Linked DNA regions of Homo sapiens. The protein of the gene in region 2 purifies or fractionates together with the protein of the main gene of each other region. This does not show direct contact. Each region holds a gene or a part of one and is shown on either strand. Other genes may lie near its edges.

Region 1 (5,213 bases), on a different chromosome or scaffold from region 2:
CTGTGGCTTTCCCTCTCAAGGATACAAAAGAAACAAATTATAGTAAACACTAAAACAGTTCATTTCAGCTTGTCTTTTCAGTTTCTCTTGCATGTTTGTTTCAAAAGGTTCTTTAATCATAAATATAGGTTGAACATCCAATACCCAAAAAATATGAAATCCAAAGTGCTCCAACATTTGAAACTTTTTTTTTTGAGATGGAGTCTTGCTCTGTCTCCCAGGCTAGAGTGCAGTGGCGCGATCTCGGTTCTAGCGATTCTCATGCCTCAGCCTCCCGAGTAGCTGACACTACAGGCATGTGCCACCGCACCAGGCTAATTTTTCATTTTTAGTAGAGATGGGGTTTCAACATGTTGCCCAGGCTGGTCTTGAACTCCTGACCTCAAGTGATCCTCCCACTTCGGCCTCCCAAAGTGCTAGGATTACAGGTGTGAGCCACACCGTGCCTGGCCCAACATCTGAAACTTTTTGAGCACCATATGATGCTCAAAGAAAGTGTTCACTTAAGCATTTCACACTTTAGATTTTTGAACTTGGCATGATCAACCTGGTAAGCATAATTCAAATATTCCAAAATCCCAAATCCAAAACCTGAAACACTTCTGGTCCTAAGCATTTTGGATAGGAAATATTCAATCTGTATGAGGAGTGCTCCCTAAAGCATTTCTGTCAGTATCTTAAAACCTTTCCCTTAAAATGATGTGATGAGTTTGAGTTCAAAGATAACAATTTTTCCTAAACCACAAAAGTGGATTTGTTTTGTTTCTACGAACTCTGAAATACAACCCTTTTTGATCAACTATACCCCCTGGGGAAGAAAGAACATTTGAAAGTGAACATACAGATTACTGATATACAATAGAAAACAAAACAGAACAATCCGAGGATTGTATGTATGTAACATATGAAAAGATGACATTTGTTACATGGACAAAAGGAGCTTCTATAAATACACACTCTAGTATAAGCATTTCCCAAAATGTATTCAGCAAGTTTGAGAAACAATAATATGCACATTGGCATATAAAAGTCACAATAAAGAAATCTATATACTTTTGTCTAGCTAATTGTCTTTCAAGTTTACCACATACAAGTCTTTTTTTTTTTTTTTCTGGACAAGTAATATTCCTACTGCTATATTCCAAGGAACTATTATTGCAAGCACATCATTATAGAAAACATTGCCTTACATGTTTAGAAATTAATAAATTCTTATTACCTGTTCTAGGTTCTTTCATTGGTCTACACACAGTCCACTGATTTTGATGAGGATCGTATCTTTCAATGCTGGACAAATGTGAGACTCCATTATGTCCACCCACCACAAAAATAAAGCCTAGCATGACACCCACGCCAAAGTGAATCCTTTTATCTGCCATGGATGCAACCATCTCCCAGGAGTCCTTACTTGGATCATAACGCTCCACACTGCAAATATTTAAAAAAAATTTAATTTACAGATCTTTTGTGTCATTCTTCCTGTCAAAGCAAAACTAAAACCCACTACAGCTTTAAAAGTTCACATAATAGAGAGATATTAAACAAGAGTAGTCTGCCACAAATGCTTAGGTTTTGCTGATAAGATTGCAAAGATAAAAGCTTACCTTGTAAACAAGGTGCAATTCCATATGCTATTCCATTATATTGTGCAAGCGGCAAAGTATATTAAGAGCATAGAACTTGGAGTCAGAAGACCTGGGTTCAAGTACTAATTCTGTATACCTAGGGCTGAACGAACCTTAACCCTACTGCTGTGGATTTGTGTAATCCTGAATAAGTCATTTCCTCTCACCTGCAAAAATGAGGATAGTGCAACCTGAAGGGATTCATATAAGAATAAAGTCAAATGAGTATGCACGTGACTTTGAAAACCACTAACTGAATACAGACTTTTTTTTTTTGTTCCTAAATTTTATTTATTTATTTTTGAGGCAGGTCTCGCTCTGTCACCTAGGCTGGAGTGCAGTGACAAGATCAGAGCTCACTGCAGCCTCAAATTCCGGGGCTAAAGTGATCTTTCTGCCTCAGCCTCCTGAGTAGCTAGGACTAAAGGTACATGCCCCCATGCCTGGCTTGAATACAGAGGTTTTTAGGATCTTCTATACAGTTAAGGGGAAAAGAAGAGGAAGAGAGGGGTGGGGGGTGGGGAGAAAAACCTTTATTTTTTTTCGTCACAGGAGAATTCATGTGGCTTACTGCAAAGCAATCACTGTAGATTGCATAGTACAAACTGGCTGATCATAATTATCTCAGGGTGATTTAGGAGTACTCAGGAATTTGAGTCAAGACTGTGTTTCAGAGAACGTGTGGCATTTCTAAGCTGCATTATGGAATCCAAATTAAATCAGAATTTTCAAAAAGGCTTCCCTAGAAAATTCTAGCAGCTGTTTAAGACTATGGTTTCCTCTGAAGGTGCACAAAGGCACAGAGGTAAGATTGTTGGGCTTGTTCTGGCCCTAACCTATTTCCTGAAAAAACCATAAGCATTTAACAGGCTGTGACACCATTCTGGAGTTCATAATAGAGACTGGGTAATGTTTCTGAAAGAACTCCAGGATAGAATCCATTAGACCAAAATCATTGAAGAAGAGTTGATGCACTGCAGCAAGACTTTCAAGATAATCAAATTTAAAATACTTAACCTTTTATCTTACAAATTTTGGGCAGAAGCTTTTCAAAGAATAGAAATGCATGTCTATGTCCCATATTTTTCCTTCAACTAAGGGCAAAAAATATAAATAAATAAAAGGAGGAATACTTTGGCTTCAATAGAAGTAAAAATTTACAGATGAAATGCTGTTGTGCCATCACTTTCTCAGTCAACAAACCTCAGTATTTGTAGAGGATTGGTTCCAGGATCCACCCCATCCCAAGGATACCAAAATTTGCAGATGCTCAAGTTCCTTATATAAAACAGTATAATATTTGCATATAAGCTACACGTATCCTCTTGTATACTTTAAATCATCTCTAGATTACTTATAATACTATGCAAATAGCTGTTATACTGTATTATTTTGTTTTTTATTATTGTAAATTTTTTCAAATATTTTTGATCCACAGTTGGATGGATCTGTGGATGTAGAACCCGTGGATATGGAGGGCTGACTGTATGCCCTGTCATTAAAATACTCACAATCAAAATAACACAAACCACTCTAATTACTATTAAAGATACAATCTTTTCTTTTCTTTCTTTCTTTTTTTTTTTTTTTGAGACAGGGTCTCACTCTGTTGCTCAGGCTGGAGTGTAGTAGTGCATTCAAGGCTCACTGCAGCCTCAACCTCCTGGGCTCAAGCAATCCTCCCACGTCAGCCTCCCAAAGTATTAGGATTACAGGCGTGAACCACCACACCTGGCCAAAGATAAAACCTTTGGAACATCAATTTTCAATAAAGGTTCAGAATTACGATTAATTTCTCATATAACTAGTTACTTCATACTTTTATTTTCTCATATATATTTCTCCTTTATTCAGATAAAACTACAGAATACAGATATCACAAATTCAAACTCCAGCACAAGTCAAATACCTGATGATACATGTATGATTACAGGAAAGAATTCAGAAAGGAATATTTAAATAAGGTTTTAAGTTTATGATGTGCTATAATATTGTATAGACACACAGGAATTAAATTTCTACTTCTTTATTCTATTAAGCAATACAATAAAAGATAATTTACATACTGTGCACATAGATGTACACACCACACAAAATCTAAAGTTGTCTAACTTCATCTTATTTTTAGGTTTCTGAGTTTTAAAATCTAGTCCATTTATAGTGAATGAATGTAAAATTTAATGAGAGGGATTTGATTGTTAGGTTTGTATTAAATTCCCATGTAAAACAATTACAATTATATCCATGGAGCAGATTAAGTTTCCCAAATGCCGGAAGTTCATTCATACACACAAATTGTTTAAAACTCAGAAATCATTGCTAATGAGACTTTTAAAAATCCATAAACATATGCAATTTAATTATTAAGTTAAATACCTGTTCATGTGGGCAGGACCATACCCACCAATGGCATATATCATTCCATCCAATACCGCTGCAGCAAAACAACTTCTTGTTGTCGTCATTGGTGCCACAGGTTGCCATTTTCTTATTTTGGGAATGTACTTCTCTACAGATTGTAAATAAGATTGTCCATCATAACCACCTAAGGCATAAAGTTCTCCTGCAAGTACTACTACTCCAAGAGTACTTCGGCTTTCATTCATTCTCTCTAGAGAAGTCCAAGTATTTGTATCAGGATTCCAGCATTCCACTGAATTTTCATGTTTTCTGATAGTGACGCCAGGACGCACATTAGTTGCAATACCACCTATAACATATACTTTTTGGTCTAAAACGCATATTCCAAATTCATAGCGAGGAATGTTTAGGGGTGCCAAACCAATCCAAGAGTCATTCTGAGGAAAGTACATCTCCACACTAAAGAATAAGCAGAAAAAATATAAAATTTAAAAACCAAAGTGGCCCATAAAGACAGATATGTTTAATCTTATTAGTAATCAGGGACACAAAAATTAAAAGCACAATAAACCATGACACACCTTCCAAAGTGGCAAAAAATATAAAGTCAGATAATAATTGTTGGCAAGAATGTGTAGCAAGAAATGCATACTCCGTTGGTGAGAGTGTAAACTTGTATAAATTACTCTGGAAAACAATTTTACATTATCTAAAAAAGTTGAAGATACATGTGTCCTGACTCAGTAATTACATTCCTATATATCTACTCTTCTGAATGTCTATTATAATTTTGCATCTAGATAAATATACACAAATGTTCACAGAAGCACAACACAATCATCCACCAAAAGAATGGTTAAAGTGTACTTTATGTGTCCTGTCTGAGCAACTCTACTGATGAAAAAGGCATGCATACATATATGTCCAAGAGTGTTTACTACAGTATTATTTGTAACAGCTCCAAAGTGGAAACAATCCAAATGTTTATCCACTATAAAATGGATAAATTGTGCCATATCATATAAAAGAATACTACATGGCAATGAAAGGAACAAACTATAGCTACATGTCGCTGGGGGAATCTTACACACATAATGTTGAGATAAAAAAGTCAAATTCAAAAGGATATCAATTAAGTTCAAAAACAGGTAAAACGAATCTCTGGATTAGGAATGAAGATAGTGGTCACTTTTGGGGAGGACAAGAAGGGAGCTCAAGGGTGGCTTT
Region 2 (5,953 bases):
CTTCTTACATTGGTAAGAATTGACAAAGGAATGTTCTTGAATAAGAAAGGATCTAGTGAGACAAGAAAGACTAACTTTGGACCAGATGCGTCAATTAGTAACAAAGGAAGAAGGTAGGCACTAGACAGGCGTAGGTGGGTAGATGGCAGCGACACGGAAGTTCTGGCTGTTTCTATTCTCAGAATTAGGTTGGCAGTGCACGAAGATGGAGAAGTGACTGAGCGTCGAGGAGGGAGTGTGTGAGTGGGTATCTCAAATGAATCCATTTAGGAGTTTGTTCAGGAGTTCCTGGGGCCCACAGGAGGCATCTTGTTACCTGGAGAATCTTTTTTGGCTCCTCCTACAATCCCACCCCTTCCCCAACCCCAGCGGTGAGTTGGGCCCCAGGCTCCCAGTTGGAGCAACACTCACCAATGCCAGTGAGGTACAGCACAGCTGTGCCCACGGGGGCATCCTCGTTGGGCCCATAGTATGTGACCGAGACCTGTGGAGACAGCATCCCGAAACCATAGGCAGTGTTGGACGGGAGGTGCCAGGAACAGAGCCCCAGGCCATGTGCCGAGTCTAGGCGTGGGATCTTGGTCTTGTGTTATGGCTTCTGAAGTCTCACCTATGAGCTGGTATGGGGCCACAGCCCTGCGCTTAGGGCTGAGTCAGTCCCCTAAGGACTTAGAACCTGCCATGACCCCCAACCCTAACCTTGTCGAGAGCCAGGCTTGAAACCACCTGTCCACGTGAGAGCTGTATCCCTGATGGCGGGGTGATCAAGGGACTTATCCCAAAGGGATTTAAGAAACAGGCTGCCTGGCTCTAGAGCCCAAGCTTGAAACCACACTATACATCCTCCCTGCTAAACCCACTCTCCTGGGGTCCCATGTCCTACTCCATAAGGTGCACGGTGGGGAAACAGGCCTCTGGTGGCTTAAGCTGCTCACTAAGAAGGACACCCAGGTGAAGAAGCAGCGTTGGGACTCAGTCCCAACTGTGGGACTGTGTCCCACACCAGCCTCTACTTTATGCTTTTAGAAAGAGACCTGCCCTCCAGCCACTGACCCTGACCACAAGGTCTTGGTCATGAACCAGAGACCCAACCATTGGCCAGAGCATGTGACAGATCCACCCCATCCTTAAATAGAAGCTTTAGTCCTCTAAGTTCAAGGTTCTTTGTTGGCCACTCCTGAGGGTCCTGGAGGCCGAGCCCTGGGCAGAGAATGGTTCTCAGGTAGTCTGGAGTTCCACTGGCACCCACCGTGGCCTCCATTCTTATCTGAGATACCTTTTTTTGCGATGGAGTTTTGTTCTTGTTGCCCAGGCTGTAATGCAGTGGGACAATCTCAGCTTACTACAACCTCCACCTCCTGGGTTCAAGCGATTCTCCAGCCTCAGCCTCCTGAGAACCTGAGATTACAGGCACCTGCCACCACACCTGGCTAATTTTTGTATTTTTAGTAGAGACAGCGTTTCACCATGTTGGCCAGGCTGGTCTCAAACTCCCGACCTCAGGTGATCTGCCCATCTCAGCCTTCCAAAGTGCTGGGATTACAGGCATGAGCCACCACACCTGGCCAGAGACACTCAGTTCCTACCTAAGTCCACTACTTGCCTCTCAGGGAGTTGCCTGCCCTGGGCACACAGCGCAGGTGGGTGTGTGTACCTACCCCTCTGCAGCAGACATCTCCAGTAGGTCCTGTAGGGTGTGGGGGGAGGGAGGGAGAGCTCTCCCAGTCCTGAACTGCTCCATCATGGTTCTCACCCCCAGCCCCGCACTGGGTGCACCTGGAGAGCTTTAAACCAGCGGCCAGGATCCTAGCCCTGAGGTTCCATTGGTACCTCAGGTTTAATTGGTAGAGGGGGTGTGGCCTGGGTATTGATGTTATTAGCTCCCCAGTGGTTCTCACCTGCAACCAAGGTTGAACACTCCTGCCCTGAATGAGCCACCTGCTTCTACCACAGGAGAACCTCCCCAACATAGGCACCCCATTAGGGAGACAGCTTACCCAGGGGAGAATACACCCTTGGGCTCAAGCTCAAATCCTGGGTCTATCCCACTCTAGGTAGGCTACTTAGGTTTAGACACAGCACTCTGTGCCTTAGTTTCCTCATATGTAAAGTGATGGTAGGCCAGGTGTGGTGGCTCATGCCTGTAATCCCAGCACTTTGGGAGGTGGAGGCAGGTAGATCACTTGAAGTCAGGAGTTTGAGACCAGCCTGGCCAACATAGTGAAACCCTGTCTCATACTAAAAATACAAAATTAGCCGGGCATGGTGGTGGGTGCCTGTAGTCCCAGCTACTCGGGAAGCTGAGGCAGGAGAATTGCTTGAACCCGGGAAGTGGAGGTTGCAGTGAGCTGAGATTGTGCCATTGCACCCCAGTCTGGGCAATGAGCGTGAGACTCAAAAAAAAAAATAATAATAAATAAATGAAAATAAAAAATAAATCCCAGTCCTGCTGGTTGCTGACTTGGCAGGGCACCTTCGCTAGGTGCCTCTGTTTCTTTGTAAAATGGGGTCATGGAGTGCCCACACCACTGGTCTGTTGCAGACACTGGATGAGATCAGACGTGCAAAACAACGTGTTTCCCAGGCTCGAGTCACGTCTGCAGCCAGGAGGAAGCCCCAGTGGCTGTGCTAGGTCCCACCCCGGGAGATGCCCCTCACCTCTTCCCCTGAGGCTTACCTTATCCGCATCCACGGAAGGGCTGGGCGATGTCATCTTCACTGTGGCGTACGTGGGATCAGACAGGGGCCACCAGATGGTGGCGTCCTCCTTCTCAGAAATCACCGTGTTGGCCACATCGATCAAGACCCTCCCAGAGCCATGGATGGTGAAGCACTGGCACTTCTGGGGGGCACACCTGGTTTGCCCGGTAAGAGACACGCGTCAGGGCACAAACACCTTCTCAGCCTAGGAGATGACTGGCATGGGGGAGGGGACGGCTCCCGAATCCTCATTCTCCTTAGGGTGTTGAGGCAGAGTGGTCTGGGGTCCTTATTCCTACCCACCCCCTCCCAAAGGACCCCTGTGTTTGCTCTCCGACGGGCTCCAGCCCAAACCCCATCCCGCTACCGACACTGCAGAAGTTACCACAGCTACATCTTAGTAATAAGCACCCAATTCCCAAGAAGGGGGGAGCCACAAAGGATCCCCATAAAGAAAAAGATCAGGGCAAGCGACTCAGGAAGTTGTACTGTGACCCTGCTGAGTCACCTCCACCTGCAGGCTCCAGCATCTAGCAGTCTCCCTGGCCTGCTCCTCACAGCCCCCCGAGGCCAGCGTCCCCATGGTTTCACAGATAGGGGAACAGAGAGGCCAAGGCCCTTGCCTCACTAAGAGTCCATGGCAGCTGCTACAGGGCAGAGGCAGGATTTAAGTCAGAATTCTGCGTGGTTGGAACTGGGAGGCCCCCCACTAGAGACCCAAGGCTTCCCAAGATGGGGCAGGATAGTGAGGCTAGAGAAGTAACCCCCAACTCCCAGATCAAGGGGACTGGGTCCCAGGCCTGCCTGCCTGTCTGCCTGCCACCTCTGGCAGAGCTCCCAGCATCTCACCCGCTGAGATCCAAGCAGATTTCTGTGCCCAACACACAAACGGCATGGACAGGGCTGTCCAGGGACAGGTGGATGATACTCTGGAAGGACATGGCTCGGCCCTCCACGCTGACCATCCTCAGGCCTGCACCGCAGCCCTCACTCAGCACAGCAGCCTCAGACGCCCCAGGGCTCACCCTGCCCTTCCCTGTTATACAGTCCAGGCCTGTGCAGGCCACCCCCTTGTTAAGAAGGGGAGGGGTCAGCAGCTGCCCAGGTGTCACTGATTTTCCCTCTAAGAGCTTCCTGGTGGCTGATAGTCTGGGGAGCAGGTGGCATCAGAACCCCTTCATCACCAATTTATCAGGCACCTCGTGCCTGCAGAGCTGCAGGCCAGGGGAGTCTGAGGCCGGTTGCTTAGGCATCTGTGGCCTTCAGCTGGGAAGAGGAGGGGCTCTGGGAAGTCGGTGCCTTGGAGTGATCAACTTGGCCATGTTGCTGGAGGACTCAGCTGGAAGCTGTCGGGGCAAATACCTGCAGAGGGCAGTTGGGAGGAGTTGATGGTAGCAGTCAGGATGGCAATGTGTGGCAGCATGCCCAGGCTCTGGGGTCTCAGTTCTAGGGTGTGTGTCTCCTGGAAATTGACGAAGGAGCTCGGCAAAGTGCTGGACTGGTGGTTTGGTTTTGTTTTTGAGACAGGGTCTCTACCCATGCTAGAGTGCAGTGGCGCAATCATAGCTCACTGCAGCCTCAACCTACCTGGCTCCAGTGATCCATCTCAGCCTCCCAAGTAGCTGGGACTACAGGTGTGCACCACCATGTCCAGCTGATTTTTGTATTTTTTGTAGAGACCGGGTTTTGCCATGTTGCCCAGGCTAGTCTCGAACTTCTTGATCCCAGAAATCCTCCTATCTCGACCTGCCAAAGTGCTGGGATTACAGGCGTGAGCCACAGCGCCTGCCTAGACTAGGTGGTTATTAACCCTCTGGTGGTTTCAAAAATTATCAAGGGTGCTTGTTAACATTGCAAATTCCTGGGCCCAGAAGGTCTAGGGTGTGGTCCAGGAACCTGCATCCCAACCCCCAGTGATTAAGGTGAGCTCTTTGCTTACAGCTGTGTCGGTGGGGGTGGGGGCACAGCAAGTGTTAGTGGAATGAATACATCAAGCCAGGGTCATCAGCTGCTACTCATCTCAGCGGAGCCCACAGAGCAAAGAAATAGGAACCCTTCTCTGGCACAAGGAACTTACATAACTGACTTTAAAATTGTGTTCATTTCATGTCTTAAGCTTGGGTTGAGTTTTTTTTTGTTGTTGTTTTTGAGACAGGGTCTCACTCCGTTACCCAGGCTGGAGTGAAGTGGCGTGATCATGGTTCACAGCCTTGACCTCCCAGGCTCAAGTGGTCTTCCCACCTCAGCCTCCTGAGCAGCTGGGACTACAGATGTGCACCACCATGCCCAGCTAATGGTTTTACATTTTTCCGCAGAGATGGGGTCTTGTTATGTTGCCCAGGCTGGGTCATGCTTACTCCTGAATAGGTACCACAGTCACATGATTCCAAGTTCAGAGTCTCCCTCCTGCCCTGTGCCTTACCCACCTGCAGGTGGAGGTAGTGACAGTGTTACCCGTTTCTTATATGTCTTTCCAAATAAATGTTATGCATGACCAAGTAAATATGTGTGTGTATCCTTTTCTTCTTCTCTTCCTCCTCCAATACTAGCATACAGTTAGATAAATTTGAAGGGGCTTTATGGTGAGAAAGGGAAGGACGTGGAGTCTATTTTAAGGTTAAGGGAAAAAGGCTTCTGCAGGTTCCTTCGAGGTTACATCTCGAGACTAAAGAGAAAAGTTGTAAAATGTGCTCAAAGTTAAGCTGCTTGGTTACAATTACAAACTTTTCAGTTCAGTGGAGATGCCCCTGGAAGCCCATTGGGTTATCTTTTTTGAGGAAGGACAAGGAGGTCATTTAGTCATTTGCTCCACTAGAATTGCTGAACACCTACTATGTCCGGGGCGCTTTTGCTCTTTTCTTCTCTCCTCCTACTACTGTCTTCTTATATAAACGGTAGTATGTGCCACCCAGTATTCCATACCTTGCCTCTTTCACTTCATAGTTATACTGGAGAGAAGTTCTTTGTATCAGTACGTAAAAAGCAGCCTTACCCCTTTGTACAGCTGTGTATTTTACATAGGGTTGTACTGTAATATAAACATTTGTTTTCAGCCTTTGCTCTAATATGCACCCAGGTGTACCCAGCATAGGAGGTGGAGATGAGGTACTGAGTGAAGCCTGTTCGGTCAGCCAGGCTGGCTAAATTTGCAAGTTGCAGTAAAAAATTCCCTCCCTGGAGGTTTTAAGCACTCAACACAACTCTCAAGGATGTCTCTGTTTTAGTTGCTCTTGGAGGCAGGGGGTTGGTCAGC
Region 3 (5,213 bases), on a different chromosome or scaffold from region 2:
GGCAGGGCAGGGCTCTCAGTGGCCCCAGGTGGCCACGGGGGACTATGTGAATCACTTCCAAGTGCCAACACAGAAGCTGAGCAGAGGAAGAGGAGCAAAACCGAAATGTGAGCGGGCACTAGGGGAGACACAGGCACTGTCTAATGGATACGCAGGATCTGGGGGAGATGCAGGCACCGTCTAACTGATACGCGGGCTCTGGGGGAGAAGCAGGCGCCGTCTAACTGATACACAGGATCTGGGGGAGAAGCAGGCGCAGTCTAACTGATACGTGGGCTCTGGGGGAGAAGCAGGCGCCGTCTAACTGATACGTGGGCTCTGGGGGAGAAGCAGGCGCCGTCTAACTGATACGTGGGCTCTGGGGGAGAAGCAGGCGCCGTCTAACTGATACGTGGGCTCTGGGGGAGAAGCAGGCGCCGTCTAACTGATACGTGGGCTCTGGGGGAGAAGCAGGCGCCGTCTAACTGATACGTGGGCACGGGGGAGATGCAGGCACCGTCTAACTGATACACAGGATCTGGGGGAGACGCAGGCACTGCCTGATTGATACGCGGGCGCTGGGGGAGACGCAGGCCCATCTAACTGATATGTGGGCTCTGGGGGAGACACAGGTGCTGCCTAACTGATACGTGGGCTCTGGGGGAGACGCAGGCGCCGCCTAACTGATACGTGGGCTTTGGGGCCACTCCTCCAATCCAAAGGCTGCCCAGGCCGTTCCCCTGCCTTGTCCTCGGCACCTTGTGCAGTGCCTGGAGAACGGAAGCTCAGTAACTGTCTGGACGGAATGAAATGCTTCTTCCAGTCACGGTGACTGCTGCCGCTGAGCAAGGGCCATCTATTTCTTTCTTTTTTTTTTTGAGATGGAGTCTCGTTCTGTCAACCAGGCTGGAGTGCAATGGCGTGATCTTGGCTCACTACAACCTCCACCTCCCAGGTTCAAGCGATTCTCCTGCCTCGGCCTCCCCAGTAGCTGGGACTACAGGTGCCCACCACTGCGCCCGGCTAATTTTTTTGTATTTTTAGTAGAGGTGGGGTTTCGCCGTATTAGCCAGGATGGTCTCGATCTCCTGACCTCGTGATCCACCCGCCTCGGCCTCCCAAAGTGCTGGGATTCCAGGCGTGAGCCACCGCGCCCGGTATTTCTTTCTTTTCTTTTCTTCTTTTTTTTTTTTTGAGACGCAGTCTCGCTCTGTGGCCCAGGCTGGAGTGCAGTGGCGCGATCTCGGCTCACGGCAAACTCCACCTCCCGGGTTCACACCATTCTCCTGCCTCAGCCTCCCGAGTAGCTGGGACTACACGCGCCCGCCACCACGCCCAGCTAATTTTCTATATTTTTAGTAGAGTCGGGGTTTCAAGGATGGTCTCGATCTCCTGACCTCGTGATCTGCCCGCCTTGGCCTCCCAAAGTGCTGGGATTACAGGCGTGAGCCACCGCGCCCGGCCCCACGCCCGCTATTTCTTTAAATCAGTCACTCTCCTCACCAAGCCTCCTGGTCTCCCGACCACAAGACCTCCCTCTCCATGGGCCTCCAGCAGAATGGCGGCTCCAGTGGCCCAGGATCACAGCTGGCTGGCCAGGCAGGCCTCTGTCCCCCCAAGGAGCCAGGCACAGAGCAAGGCTCAGGTCCCCCAGGCCCTCCAGGACAAGGGAGCATCTACCCCGGCTCTCTTACCACCGTGGTCCAGCTGGGGATGAGCCTGACTGAGTTCTTAACCTCCTCCTCTGTCACCTCCACCACGCTGCAGTGCTCCTCCTCCGAAGGAAGGGGCTCCTCCCCGTTCTTGGTCACCCAAGGGTGCAACTGTCGGGGCCGGGAGGGCAGGGAGAGGGGGAGAGGTCAGGCCATTACCAGAATCACCTGGAGGGGTCCAAAGTCCACAGACTCAAACCCAACACACATGCATCCTGGTGTTGATCCCTCCAGAAAGGGAAAGTGACTCCTGTTTTCTGTGTCCCAGCCCAGCCCAAGACCCCCAGTTCCCCGACCTTGATGTCTGGCACCCCAATTCTCGTCTCGGGATTCTTGTCTAACATCTTCAGGATCAGGTCCTTGAGCTCCTCGCTGATTTCTGGCCTGGAGAGGGCGAAGGAAGGAGAGGAGGGTGGGACCGCTGATGAGGACCCCTTCCTGTCCACCTCTCTTCCCGAAACCTTCGTCCCTCGGATGGGAAGACTGAGTTCCGGACAGCAGGCAGGAATTTCACAACAAGGGCTTGGAGAGCCTTTCCTGAGCAGGAGGTCAAGTCTCCCTCCAGGACAGAGGCACAGACAGAGTTCCATGGGTGCTGGACACCCCAATGGGTGGCAAAGATGGTGAGGAGAGTCGCTTTATGGGACACCAGAGGCCTTCAGACCCACTCACCACCTCGTCCTTTTCTACACCCAGAGAAGATCCTCTCTCATTTGACAGAGGAGGAAACTGAGGCCCAGGGAGGTTAGCAGGCTGGCACAGTGCCAGCCAGAAGAGTGCAGGCAGAGATGGGAGACTCAGATGGGAGGGAGCAGCCCCCTCAGCGCCACATCAGCTCCAACTCTCTCTGCCCAAACCCCAGGGTTCTTTTTTTTTTTTGAGATGGAGTCTCGCTCTGTGGCCCAGGCTGGAGTGCAGTGGCGCAATCTCGGCTCACTGCAAGCTCCGCCTCCCAGGTTCATGCCATTCTCCTGCCTCAGCCTCCCGAGTAGCTGGGACTACAGGTGCCCGCCACCGTGCCCGGCTAATTTTTTGTATTTTTAGTAGAGACGGGGTTTCACCGTGTTAGCCAGGATGATCTCGATCTCCTGATCTCATGATCCGCCTGCCTTGGCCTCCCAAAGTGCTGGGATTACAGGCGTGAGCCACCACGCCCGGCCAAACCCCAGGTTTCTTTGCCACCAGTGGTCTTGGGGAGCCCATCCTTCCAAGACTAGGGAGCAGAAAGCCACTCTCAGGACTGTTGACTTCGGTTCCCCCTGTTGTCTTAGATGCTTCATCCCTTTTAAAATTCCTGGGCTGAGGGGAAAGACACCCCTCAGCAGGGGGTATAGCAGGAAGAGAGGCACCAGGGGTACAACTGTGGAGGCAGGGAGGGAAGGCAACCACAGGATGAGGAGGAAATGGACAGAAGCCAGCTGGCTGGTGCTCGGGAAAGGGAGTGAGGCGGCCCCAGACGAGCGGGTGGCAGAACCCGGAGACGTGTGAATGCTAGCGCCAGGGTGTGGCTTTGAGAAGCTTCAGACAAACTTCAGGCAAGAGATGCAGGCAGATTTGTTGTGCTTTATCAGGGCTGTCCCCGCCTGAATGTGTTGGCTGGACTGGAGGGAGGCCAGCAGCAGCGAGACCAGGGGGAAGGTGGCTAGATAAGTCTGGGGAGGGGCCTGAGGCCTGAATGAGGCAAGGGGTATAAGTGGCAACAAGGCCCAGAGACAGGGAAGAGGAGGGCTCAGCAGGGCTTGGGGACCACACAGGAAATAAGCAGAAGAGAGCAGGAGTCGCTGAGTACAAGTCCCGTTTCATTTTCTTTTTTTGTTTGTTGTTTTTTGTTTTTTTTTTTTTGTTTTTTTTTTTTTTTTTTTTTTTTTGAGACAGAGTCTCGCTCTGTCGCCCAGGCTGGAGTGCAGTAGCACGGTCTCAGCTCACTGAAACCTCTGCCTCCCGGGTTCACGCCGTTCTCCTGCCTCAGCCTCTCGAGTAGCTGGGACTACAGGCACCCGCCACCACGCCCGGCTAATTTTTTTTCTATTTTTAGTAGAGATGGGGTTTCACCGTGTTAGCCAGGATGGTCTCGATCTCCTGACCTCGTGATCCGCCCTCCTTGGCCTCCCAAAGTGCTGGAATTACAGGTGTGAGCCGCCGCACCCGGCCTTATTCAGTTTCTTTCTTCTGTTTTTTTTTTTTGAGACAGAGTCTTGCTCTGTCGCCCAGGCTCACTGCAACCTCTGCCTCCTGGGTTCAAGCAATTCTCGTGCTTCAGCCTCCCGAGTAGCTGGGACTACAGATGTGCGCCACCACGCCTGGCTAATTTTTGTATTTTTAGTAGAGATGGGGTTTCACCATGTTGGCCAGGCTGGTCTCTAACTCCTAACCTCAGGTGATCTGCCCACCTCAGCCTCCCAAAGTGCTGGGATTACAGGCGTGAGCCACCGCACCCGGCCTCCATTTCACTCCTGAAATCCACTGCTGAAAAGAGGAGCCTGGGAGCTCAGGCTGTGGCTGCCACGGTGGCCGTCATGAGGCGAACCATGCATGAGCAAGAGGCCTCCCCGACGTCCCTGCTACGCTCAGAGACCTCGGTCACAATGGGAAGAGTGGGGAGGAAGAGTGGCTTGAGTCCCAGCCCCCTGACCGCTCTCCTCCAGAGCATCCTCTTTTCCATCTGTGAAATGGGGAGCACGCACTGGCATCTTGAAGTTCCCTGACCCTGAGTGGGGGAAGGAGAAGTTCCCCTTGAGTCCAGGGGCTGGGTGGGGCTGGCGCCACTGACCCCAGGCAGGCCTGCGGTGAAGGAGTGGTGTGAATGATGCCTGTGGTCATCCCTGGCCAACCCTGGATCTCAGGGTTCCCATCCACACAGTGACGTTGCGGAGACCCTTGGCTCCAGAGTCCCTCCCGTCCATCTATTCAGGGGTCCCTCCCAGGGAACAGCACCGCCACCTTCATATCTGCAGGCTGGGGTGGGGTCCTCAGAGGGCAAAAGCTCTGCTAAAACTCAGACACCAGGAGCGGGTGGTAGCCCCCTTGTTCCCCTGGGTGGACAACTCACTCCTCAGGAAACACCACGGGCTCATTCTTGATCTTCCTGTGGAGGGCCAGGATGAAATCGTCGATGAATGGGCACTGTGGGGTGGAGAGGCAGACAAAGGATGTGGGTCCAGGGCCTCGACCTGTGCCAGGGGATCAACCCCCCTCCCTTGGTGGGGGCAGGGGTAGGGGGCAGGTCTGGGCTCCCATTACATGAGAAGGACCTCAACTCACACTGTAAATGTTCAACAAATGTTGACTGAATGAATGAGTTGCTGAGGGAACAATGAGGCTGGGTGCATCCACCGCCGTTACTGCCACCCGCGGCCAGGCCAGGCCAGGCTGGGTGCACCCACCACCATTACCGCCACCTGTGGCCAGGCCTCCACTCCCAGGGCCTGGGGCTTGGGAACATGTTCACTGAAATTCCCCCCTGCCCCTTAGTGTGGTCACCAGAGCAGGCACACCTGCGGGCAGGGATCACCGATACGTCAG
Region 4 (5,954 bases), on a different chromosome or scaffold from region 2:
CTGTCTCCTGCTCGTCCCTGGGCAATGGAATGTCTCGGTGTAAAACCCGATGGTATGTTCCATCCACCGAGATAGGGGAAAACCGCCTTAGGGCTGGAGGTGACACATGCTGGCAGCAATACTGCTCTTTAATGCACCAGATATGTTTATGTATGAGCACATCAAGGCACAGCACATTTCCTAACCTTGTTTATGACACAGACATTTGCTCACATGTTTTCCTGCTGACCCTCTCCCCACTGTTACCCTATTGTCCTGCCACATCCCCGTCTCCGAGATGGTAGAGATAATGACCAATAAATACTGAAGGAACTCAGAGACCCGGCCGGCGCGGGTCTCCTGAGCCCACTTTTCTTTCTGTGTACTTTGTCTCTGTGTCTCTTTCTTTTCTCAGTCTCTCGTCCCACCTGACAAGAAACACCCACAGGTGTGGAGGGGCAGGCCACCCCTTCAGTGAGGTATAATTACATATATCCTATTTTAGGATGGAGCAGGAAGAGCATGAGAGCCCAGGAGTTCCAGACCAGCCTGGGCGACACAAGGAGACCTTGTCTCTATTTTTTAAGTATTTTTAAAGTAATATATACAACGTTTACTTGTCAAAGTGTACAGCATGGAGCGATGTTATATATACAGTGAAATGATTACCACAATCCAGCTAATTAACATATCCACTGCTTCATATAGTTGCCTTTCGTTTTTGCAGTGACAACGCTTGATGTACTTAGAAAAATTCAGGGTTTTTTGGCCAGGCACGGTGGCTCACGCCTGTAATCCCAGCACTATGGGAGGCCGAGGCGGGCAGATCACAAGGTGAGGAGCTCAAGACCATCCTGGCTAACACGGTGAAACCCCGTCTCTACTAAAAATACAAAAAAAAAATTAGCCGGGCATGGTGGCGGGCGCCTGTAGTCCCAGCTACTTGGGAGGCTGAGGCAGGAGAATGGCTTGAACCTGGGAGGCGGAGCTTGCAGTGAGCCAAGATCGCGCCACTGCACTCCAGCCTGGGCGAGTGAGACTCCCTCTCAAAAAAAAAAAAAAAAAGAAAAGAAAAGAAAAATTCAGGGTTTTTTTTTTCTTTTTCAGAAAGTCTTGCTCTGTCGCCCAGGCTGGAGTGCAATGGTGCGAGGCTTACCACAACCTCCTCTTCCCGGGTTCAAGCGATTCTCCTGCCTCGGCCTCCCAAGTAGCTGGGATTACAGGTATGCCCCACCACACCTAATTTTTTTTGTATTTTTAGTACAAACGGGGTTTCACCATGTTGGCCAGGCTGGTCTTGAACTCCTGACCTCAGGTGATCTGCCCACCTCAGCCTCCCAAAGTGCTGGGATTACAGGTATGAGCCACCAGGCCTGGCCAAGTATTTTTTTTCCCAAGTACATTTTTTTCTTTTTTTCTTTTTTTTGAGATGGAGTCTCCCTCTGTTGCCCAGGCTGGAGTGCAGTGGCACAATCTCGACTCACTGCAACCTCCACCTCCCAGGTTCAAGTGATTCTAGTGCCTCAGCCTCTCAAGAAGCTGGGATTACAGGCGCACCGCATCACGCCGGGCTAGTTTTTGTATTTTTAGTAGAGACAGGGTTTCTTGTTTTTTTCTGAGATGGAGTCTTGCTCTGTCACCCAGGCTGGAGTGCAGTGGCGCGATCTGGGCTCACTGCAAGCTCCGCCTCCCAGGTTCACGCCATTCTCCTGCCTCAGCCTCCCAAGTAGCTGGGACTACAGGCGCCCGCCACTATGCCCAGCTAATTTTTTTTGTATTTTTAGTAGAGATGGGGTTTCACCGTGTTAGCCAGGATGGTCTCGATCTTCTGACCTCGTGATCCGCCCGCCTCGGCCTCCCATAGTGCTGGGATTACAGGCGTGAGCCACCGCGCCCGGCCGAGACAGGGTTTCTCTATGTTGGCCAGGCTGGCCTCGAACTCCTGACCTCAGCTGATCCACCCGCCTCGGCCTCCCAAAGTGCTGGGATCACAGGCGTGAGCCACCGCATCTGGCCATTTACATTTTTTTTTTTTTTTGATGCAGCATTTCACTCTGGTTGCCCAGGCTGGAGTGCAGTGGCGCAATCTCAGCTCACCGCAACCTCCGCCTCCCGGGTTCAAGTGATTCTCCTGCCTCAGCCTCCCGAGTAGCTGGGATTACAGGCATGTGCCACCACGCCCAGCTAATTTTGTATTTTTAGTAGAGATGGGGTTTCTCCATGTTGGTCAGGCTGGTCTCAAACTCCCGGCCTCAGGTGATCTGAAAGTGCTGGGATTACAGGCGTGAGCCACCGCGCCCAGCCTACTTTTTTTTTTTTTTAAACAGGGTCTTCATCTCATCCAGGCTGGAGTGCAGTGGCTCAATCACACCTCATTGCAGCCCCCACCTCCTGGCTCAGGTGATCCTCCCACCTCACCCCACAAGTAGCTTGGACACAGCACAAGGTCTGGCCTTCTTTGTTTTTTGAGACGGAGTCGCACTCTGTCTCCCAGGCTGGAGTGCAGTGGCGCGATCTCAGCTCATTGCAACCTCCCCCTCCTAGGTTTAAGCTATTCTCCTGCCTCAACCTTCCAAGTAACTGGGATTACAGGCATGCACCACCACACCTGGCTAATTTTTGTGTTTTTAGTAGAGACAGGGTTTCACCATTTTGGGCAGGCTGGTCTCAAACTTCTGGCCTCAAGTGATCCACCCGCCTCGGCCTCCCAAAGTGTTGGGATAACAGGCATGAACCACTGTGCCTGGCCTTATATTTTTTTGTAATGACAGAGTTTTACCATGTTGCCCAGGCTAGTCTCAATCTCCTGAACTCCTCTAAACTATATTTGAATAGAAGTCCTTAAGACATTAGGCCAGGCGTGGTGGCTCACACCTGGAATCCCAGCACTTTGGGAGGCCGAGGCAGACAGATTACCTAAAGTCAGGAGTTCAAGACCAGCCTGGCCAACATGGTGAGACCCCGTCTCTACTAAAAATACAAAAATTAGCTGGGCATGGTGGCACGTGCCTGTAGTCCCAGCTACTCAGGAGGCTGAGGCAGGAGAATGGCGGGTGAACCCAGGAGGCGGAGTTTGCAGCGAACCAAGATCACGCCACTGCACTCCAGCCTGGGCGACAGAGGGAGACTCCGTCTCAAAAAAAAAAAAATCAAAGATCCTTCCAGCATCCTCGCACCAACCATTAAGGCTTGGGAAGGGCTATGGTGGAAACTCAACCAATAGCTTCTTCTCCCTTAAACGAGAAGACAAAGAAATCGATGCAAGAACCAGCACTCACCTCCCTCAGGTCAGGTCTTGCTTCCAGCCTGTGTTTCCTGCAAAGGAAACGGATAAAAAGGGGAGGTCTCTGGCCCTTGGTACGCTAGGTGGAGAGACAGCTTTCCCGCCCAGGGTGGAACCGCCCCACTGAGATTAACATTGGGTGGCTCCCAACCACTGACCTCAGGCTCACCTTGACATCACCTGGGCCCCATCCTCAGGGATTTGGCTGTAATTGGGCTTCAGTGGGCTTTGGAGAATTACGGCTTGCTGAATCTCCCCAGGTGAGATTAATGTGCAATTCCCTTCCTAGACCACCCGGGCCAGGTGTGATAGGCGACAGAACAGGAAATACACATTTTGGGTTTTGCAGGGTACCTGGCTCCCAGCTTTAAAAACTCTTGTAGAGAAAAAAAATTAAACAAAAATAAATAAAAATTAAAAAAAAAGAGGACAAAAACTCCCGTGACTTCCTAAGTTACAAATACAATAAGTCTACTTTGTGGCCAACTGTGGTGCCTCCTGCCTATAAATCCCAGCAGGCTGAGAGGCCTAGGCCAGTGGATCCCTAGGGGCCAGGAGTTTGATACCAGCCTAGGCAACATAGCAAGATGCCATCTCTTCAAAAATATTTAATAATTAGCCATGCATAGGCTGGGCGTGGTAGCTCATGCCTGTAGTCCCAGCAATTTGGGAAGCCGAGGCGGGTGGATCACCTGAGGTCAGGAGTTGGAGACCAGACTGGCCAACGTGGTGAAACTCTGTCTCTACTAAACATACAAAAAATTAGCCAGGTGTGGTGGCAGGTGCCTGTAATCCCAGCTACTCGGGAGGCTGAGACAGGACAATCACTTGAACTAGGGAGGTGGAGGGTGAGTGAGGCACGATCACGCCATTGCACTCCAGCCTGGGTGACAAGAGCAAGACTGTCTCAAAAACAAAAACAAAAAAATTAGCCATACATGATGGGCTGCACCTGTAATCCCAGCTATTCAGGAGGCTGAGGTGGGAGGATCACCTGAGCTCAGGAGTTTGAGGCTGCAGTGAGCTGTGACTGGCCATCTCACTCCAGCCTAGGCCACAGAGTGAGACCCAGTCTCAAAAAAATAAATAGATAACTGATATTTAATTTTTTTTTTTGGATGGAGTCTTGCTCTGTGGCCCAGGCTGGAGTGCAGTGGTGCAATCTCCATTCTTGCAACCTCTGCCTTCCAGGTTCAAGCAATTCTGATGCCTCAGCTTCCCAAGTAGCTGGGACTGCAGGCACATGCCACCATGCCCAACTAATTTTTTGTATTTTTAGTAGAGACAGGGTTTCACCATATTGGTCAGGCTGGTCTCAAACTCCTGATGTCAGGTGATTACAGGCATGAGCCACCGCACCTGGCCTAAAATTGTTTTTAAATAAAACAGTGTATGTTGTGGAAAGCATTCAGCACAGAATTTTGGTAGTTTAAACTGTTAATTTAATGGAAGCAAATGGTCCCACAAATGAAGATGTATATATCAGTTGCAGCATGCCATCTATAGAAATAGGCACTATGGAGGCCTGGCATGGTGGCTCACACCTGTAATCCCTGCACTTTGGAAGGCTGAGGCAGGTGGATCATCTGAGGTCAGCAGTTCGAGACCAACCTGGGCAACATGGCAAAAAACCCCTGGCTACTAAAAATAAAGAATTAGCCAGGCATGGTGGTGTGCACCTGTAATCCCAGCTACTCAGGAGGCTGAGGCGTAAGAATTGATTGAACCTGGGAGTTGGAGGTTGCCGTGAGCCGAGATTGCACCACTGCGCTCCAGCCTGGGCGACAGAGACTCCATCTTTAAAAAAAAAAAAAAAAGATGGCCAGGCGCAGTGGTTCATGAATGTAATCCCAGCACTTTGGGAGGCTGAGGCGGGAGGACTGCCTGAGTCCAGGAGTTCAAGACCAGCCTGGGCAATATGGCGAGACTCCCTCTCTGAAGAAAAAGAAAATAAAAACAATAAAAATAAATTATATTCTAGCTGACAAAAAGAGAGAGAGAGTATATTTTGTTAAAACATTTGGCCTTTAGTCCTAGAGCAGCTATGGAGAGATAAACATGAAAGAGGTATCTCTTGTTATACATACCCAGGCCCTGCAACCACACCTGAGTTTATGTAAATGAGGTGACTTTTGGAAAGCCCCTAGATAACCCCACAAGTGCGAGGGACTGGCTGCCAAAGAAACCGTCAGTGATTAGACATTGGGAACTTTCAGCCCCAGGCTCCAAGTGGCCTCCAGGGAGGGGAGAGGGGCTGAAGGTTGAATTGATTATGAACTGCCAGCTATGTGATCAGCATTGCCCACCTAAGGAATCCTCCATAAACCCCAAAAGAAAAGGGTTTGGGCCGGGTGTCCTGTGGCTCATGCCCGTAATCCCAACGCTTTGGGAGGCCTAGATGGGAGGATTGCTTGAGCCCAAGAATTCTAGGCCAGTCTGGACAAAATAGCAAGACCCTGGCTCTACAAAAAATAAAAAATTAGCCAGGCGTGGTGGAGTGCACCTGTAGACCCAGCTACTCAGGAGGCTGAGGCATGAGAATCACTTGAACGCAGGAGACAGAGGCTGCAGTGAGCTGAGATAGCGCCACTGCACTCCAGCCTGGGTGACGGAGTTAGACTGTCTCAAAAAAAAAAAAAACCAGGAAAGAGTTCAGAAGAGCTTCCTGGTTGGTGAACCCGGGTGCATTCGT

The links.
Region 1: the proteins of PADI6 (region 2) and KLHL28 purify together in Homo sapiens (affinity purification with mass spectrometry; one large-scale study listed by BioGRID and IntAct). This does not show direct contact.
Region 3: the proteins of PADI6 (region 2) and CAMKK1 purify together in Homo sapiens (affinity purification with mass spectrometry; one large-scale study listed by BioGRID and IntAct). This does not show direct contact.
Region 4: the proteins of PADI6 (region 2) and NLRP7 purify together in Homo sapiens (co-immunoprecipitation; one study listed by IntAct). This does not show direct contact.

Annotation. Positions count from the first base shown.
Region 1 is NC_000014.9:44,930,114-44,935,326, forward strand, and holds part of KLHL28 (kelch-like protein 28), read right to left. Parts: intron 4,446-5,213; coding exon 4,002-4,445; intron 1,429-4,001; coding exon 1,220-1,428; intron 1-1,219.
Region 2 is NC_000001.11:17,369,958-17,375,910, reverse strand, and holds the start of PADI6 (inactive protein-arginine deiminase type-6), read right to left. Parts: upstream 3,716-5,953; 5' UTR 3,666-3,715; coding exon 3,550-3,665; intron 2,856-3,549; coding exon 2,678-2,855; intron 485-2,677; coding exon 412-484; intron 1-411. UniProt on the Homo sapiens protein: Structural constituent of cytoplasmic lattices, which plays a key role in early embryonic development. Cytoplasmic lattices consist in fibrous structures found in the cytoplasm of oocytes and preimplantation embryos.
Region 3 is NC_000017.11:3,867,814-3,873,026, forward strand, and holds part of CAMKK1 (calcium/calmodulin-dependent protein kinase kinase 1), read right to left. Parts: intron 4,815-5,213; coding exon 4,741-4,814; intron 2,076-4,740; coding exon 1,988-2,075; intron 1,803-1,987; coding exon 1,674-1,802; intron 1-1,673. UniProt on the Homo sapiens protein: Calcium/calmodulin-dependent protein kinase that belongs to a proposed calcium-triggered signaling cascade involved in a number of cellular processes. Phosphorylates CAMK1, CAMK1D, CAMK1G and CAMK4. Involved in regulating cell apoptosis.
Region 4 is NC_000019.10:54,944,212-54,950,165, forward strand, and holds the start of NLRP7 (NACHT, LRR and PYD domains-containing protein 7), read right to left. Parts: upstream 3,320-5,954; 5' UTR 3,258-3,319; intron 1-3,257. UniProt on the Homo sapiens protein: Inhibits CASP1/caspase-1-dependent IL1B secretion.